2 separate regions of the Homo sapiens genome follow, and region 1 is linked to region 2. Evidence: fine-mapped expression QTL. Tissue or cell type: whole blood. Region 2 holds a variant in brackets; the other region holds the start of a gene. All regions are shown on one strand. Distances are from middle to middle.

Region 1 (2,694 bases), 120 kb after region 2:
GATTTTCCAGGTGCGTCCGTCACCCCTTTCTTTGACTGGGAAAGGGAACTCCCTGACCCCTTGCGCTTCCCAGGTGAGGCAATGCCTCGCCCTGCTTCGGCTTGTGCACGGTGCGCGCACCCACTGGCCTGCGCCCACTGTCTGGCACTCCCTAGTGAGATGAACCCGGTACCTCAGATGGAAATGCAGAAATCACCTGTCTTCTGCGTCGCTCACGCTGGGAGCTGTAGACCGGAGCTGTTCCTATTCGGCCATCTTCGCATGTATTTATTTTTATTTGTCTTAGTTTGGGAGTACTGTTTTGTTACCTCCACGTATGGATTTATATTAATTTGCGAGTACTGCTTTTTACCTGCACATACATGCTTATATCTATTTATATTAATTTGGGAGTACTGCTTTTTACCTGCACATACATACTTATATCTATTTATATTAATTTGGGAGTACTGCTTTTTACCTGCACATACATACTTATATCTATTTATATTAATTTGGGAGTACTGCTTTTTACCTGCACATACATGCTTATATCTATTTATATTAATTTGGGGGTACTGCTTTTTAGCTGCATGTATTGCACAGTGGCGAAGTCTTGGCTTTTAATGCATCCATCACCCAAACACCAGGATGGACCAAGTCTCCCTATATCCATCTGTAAGACTTGTGGTTTGTCTTATCAAATATGCTTTGCTTTGAATGTGATGTGGTATTAGAGTTGGAACGTGATAGAGGTTTCTGTACATATGCGTGAATTTTGCATTACAGTTGTAATATCTGTTACAAAGTTTTTTCAATCTCTTTTATCCTCTCAAGCAGTATATAGTACTTTGGAAGAAAAACCCATACACTCTATTTGTTCAATACCAGGCCCATTTAAAAGACAGAGAGAAAAAAAGAGATTTTATGTGTATTTTGCCTGTCTCTTACATTATTTATCTACTGAGGTAATTTTAAAATTAAATTAAATTAAATTCTGAGGTAATTTAAAAATTACCTCAGTAATGGTAACCCAATGAATGAGGTGTGTCTTTGAGACCAGTAATAGATAAAGTACTCTGTGTGTAAAGAGTATTTCCTAAATACTATTGATGGATTATTTTGAGGCTCCATTTTGAGTCCTTGAGGTTTTTGGCAGGAGCCTAGGGACTGGAGTCTCTAGAAAAATTCGTGGTTTGGCCACAGCAGGATTTGCCTTCACTTCACTGGATTTGGAGGCAGTGCTACTGGTGGTTTAGATTGCACACTCTCAGCTACATTGCCGGGGTTCAGAATCAGCTCTGTGTCTTCCTACATATCACAGTTTGCTCAACACACATGTGTTTCAGTTTCCTTTTCTATAAGTTGGGAGCTAATAATAATAGTGCAACTCCATATAACTGTTGGGGTTGAATGAATAAAATAAATATAAAAAGCATAGAAGAATGCTTAGCTTCTAGTAAGTTCTCCCTTAATATCAGCTGTTATTATTATTATTAGGATTGATATTTCTGTTCAGCAGCAGTAGAGATGGATGGAACCAATGGCAGCACCCAAACCCATTTCATCCTACTGGGATTCTCTGACCGACCCCATCTGGAGAGGATCCTCTTTGTGGTCATCCTGATCGCGTACCTCCTGACCCTCGTAGGCAACACCACCATCATCCTGGTGTCCCGGCTGGACCCCCACCTCCACACCCCCATGTACTTCTTCCTCGCCCACCTTTCCTTCCTGGACCTCAGTTTCACCACCAGCTCCATCCCCCAGCTGCTCTACAACCTTAATGGATGTGACAAGACCATCAGCTACATGGGCTGTGCCATCCAGCTCTTCCTGTTCCTGGGTCTGGGTGGTGTGGAGTGCCTGCTTCTGGCTGTCATGGCCTATGACCGGTGTGTGGCTATCTGCAAGCCCCTGCACTACATGGTGATCATGAACCCCAGGCTCTGCCGGGGCTTGGTGTCAGTGACCTGGGGCTGTGGGGTGGCCAACTCCTTGGCCATGTCTCCTGTGACCCTGCGCTTACCCCGCTGTGGGCACCACGAGGTGGACCACTTCCTGCGTGAGATGCCCGCCCTGATCCGGATGGCCTGCGTCAGCACTGTGGCCATCGAAGGCACCGTCTTTGTCCTGGCGGTGGGTGTTGTGCTGTCCCCCTTGGTGTTTATCCTGCTCTCTTACAGCTACATTGTGAGGGCTGTGTTACAAATTCGGTCAGCATCAGGAAGGCAGAAGGCCTTCGGCACCTGCGGCTCCCATCTCACTGTGGTCTCCCTTTTCTATGGAAACATCATCTACATGTACATGCAGCCAGGAGCCAGTTCTTCCCAGGACCAGGGCATGTTCCTCATGCTCTTCTACAACATTGTCACCCCCCTCCTCAATCCTCTCATCTACACCCTCAGAAACAGAGAGGTGAAGGGGGCACTGGGAAGGTTGCTTCTGGGGAAGAGAGAGCTAGGAAAGGAGTAAAGGCATCTCCACCTGACTTCACTTCCATCCAGGGCCACTGGCAGCATCTGGAACGGCTGAATTCCAGCTGATATTAGCCCACGACTCCCAACTTGCCTTTTTCTGGACTTTTGTGAGGCTGTTTCAGTTCTGACATTATGTGTTTTTGTTGTTGCTCTTAAAATTGAGACGGGGTCTCACTCTGTCACCTAGGGTAGAGTGCAGTGGTGCCACCATAGCTCCTTCGACTATTGGGCTTAA
Region 2 (2,694 bases):
TTTCTGCCTTTATCCAATATTAACTTATTAAGCATCTACTGGGCATGCTATTTGAGGAGAAGCACGAATGAATAAAACTCATATTTCACTTTAAGAATATCACAGTACAGTTGGAGAATTTACTTTCATAAACACAACATCTCAAGATTTACACTTGGAAGTCATCACAGTAAAATCAGAGTAATAAACATACATTGAAACATTAATGCATCAAGGTCTTAACTGCCTGGATGCAGACATAATATTTTAATTATGAAAATTTCACTTTCAGTAGAGGAATGAAAAACATGGAAACTGTAAAAAAAAACAATAATGAATTAATTTATTTAATTAAGAGTTTGAGCAAATATAATTTTCTAAGCTCTAAACTGTTGGGATACCAAATTGAATAAACTTTTTTCCTCAGAAAGCTCAAGTATAGTAAATCATTGTTAGAAATTTAGTATTATTAGTGCTGACATAGGATAAGTTTATATGTATAGTACCATGCAAATTCAAATTGTGTTCAAGTATTGAAAACAGGGGGCCAAGGTGGCTTCCCAGAAGAGATGGCACCTCTGTCATAGTTTATTAACATCTGTATGTTCCCACTCCTTACAGATTTCTTTATCTTTTGAAGGGTTCATAGTCTAGTAACTCTCATTCCTCGCACAGCATTTTAGAAATTAAAAGCTTCCAATTACCTTGAATATAAAAATATGTGCTTCTGCCATCATAGATATATACTGCTTAATGCTTTCTTGTACTGAAACCAATTCAAAGAAATACGAGAGAAGAAAAAAAGAAAAACACAGGGAGAGAGAGTGAAATTTCAGCTTCCACTGAGAAGTGAGATTCTAAAAGATGGAATCTTTGAGTCTCAAGCTATGACTCAGTATTCTCAAACACAATTAGATAGTTGGTACGTCCTTTTCTTCTTGGATAGGATATATTAATAAGATATCTTTATCCTGACTTATCCATGAAGGAAGAATTAATAAGTAAGATGGGGGTGCTCGTATTAACTTATTGGACTCAGTAACCAACTATGAGATGTGAGTGCTGTTGCCCACTATAGAATCATAATTAGCATTTCTCTGACACAAGTGATCAAATTTTATATTTTGAATTAATCATTTGGGTGTCCTCTTTTGTGAAGTGATTGTTTAAACCATTTGCCCATTTTAGCTGGATTGACAATCTTTTCCACTTTTTTAAAGATATACTTTATATATGCTGGATATAGGTTTGTTTGCCAGATGTATACACGACAAATATCTTCTTACAGTTTTATGCCATGCTTTTTCTTTTTTTTTCTAATAAGAATTTTTATTTTATTTTATTTTTTTATTATACTTTAAGTTCTAGGGTACATGTGCACAACGTGCAGGTTTATTACATATGTATACATGTGACATATTGGTGTGCTGCACCCATTAACTCGTCATTTACATTAGGTATATCTCCTAATGCTATCCCTCCCTGCTCCCCGCACCCCACGACGGGCTCCGG[T/C]GTGTGATGTTCCCCTTCTTGTGTCCAAGTGTTCTCATTGTTCAGTTCCCACCTATGAGTAAGAACATGCAGTGTTTGGTTTTTTGTCTTTGTGATAGTTTGCTGAGAATGATGGTTTCCAGCTTCATCCATGTCCCTACAAAGGACATGAACTCATCTTTTTTATGGCTGCATAGTATTCCATGGTGTATATGTGCCACATTTTCTTAATCCAGTCTATCATTGATGGACATTTGTGTTGGTTCCAGGTCTTTGCTACTGTGAATAGTGCTGCAATAAACATATGTGTGCATGTGTCGTTATAGCAGCATGATTTATAATCCTTTGGGTATATACCCAGTAATGGGATGGCTGGGTCAAGTGGTATTTCTAGTTCTAGATCCTAGTTCTAGATCCACAATGGTTGAACTAGTTTACAGTCCCACCAACAGTGAAAAAGTGTTCCTATTTCTCCACATCCTCTCCAGTACCTGTTGTTTCCTGATTTTTTAATGATCGCCATTCTAACTGGTGTGAGATGATATCTCATTGTGGTTTTGATTTGCATTTCTCTGATGGCCAGTGATGATGAGCAAAACAAGAAATGGGGAAAGGATTCCCTATTTAATAAATGGTGCTGGGAAAACTGGCTAGCCATATGTAGAAAGCTGAAACTGGATCCCTTCCTTACACCTTATACAAAAAATTAATTCAAGATGGATCAAAGACTTAAATGTTAGACCTAAAACCATAAAAACCCTAGAAGAAAACCTAGGCATTACCATTCAGGACATAGGCATAGGCAAAGCCTTCATGACTAAAACACCAAAAGCAATGGCAAAACAGCCACAATTGACAAATGGGATCTAATTAAACTAAAGAGCTTCTTCTGCACAGCAAAAGAAACTATCATCAGAGTGAACAGGCAACCTACAGAATGGGAGAAAATTTTTGCAATCTACTCATCTGACAAAGGGCTAATATGCAGAATCTACAAAGAACTCAAACAAATTTACAAGAAACAAACAAACAACCCCATCAAAAAGTAGGTGAAGGATATGAACAGACACTTCTCAAAAGAAGACATTTATGCAGCCAACAGACACATGAAAAAATGTGGCATGCTTTTTCAAAATTCTTTCAATAAAATTATTAATTCTTCTGATGAATTCTGTAAGTTTAAGAGGTTATTAAATTTAATACAATGCTTATTTCTTGATTTAT

Evidence for each region. PIP is the estimated chance that this variant, and not a neighbour inherited with it, causes the effect.
Region 1: OR2W3 starts here. The variant in region 2 is fine-mapped to the expression of OR2W3 in whole blood (TOPMed, PIP above 0.99).

The regions. Positions count from the first base shown.
Region 1 is chr1:247,894,078-247,896,771 of GRCh38, forward strand. It overlaps OR2W3 (olfactory receptor family 2 subfamily W member 3), which reads left to right and starts at 1,510. Exons shown (of 1, transcript NM_001001957.2): 1 at 1,510-2,454. The coding sequence starts at 1,510. The coding sequence ends at 2,454.
Region 2 is chr1:247,776,936-247,779,629 of GRCh38, forward strand. It overlaps the pseudogene OR9H1. Among named protein-coding and RNA genes, the nearest start is that of OR1C1, 18 kb to the left of the region's middle. The variant T/C (reference allele first, on the strand shown) is at 1,492.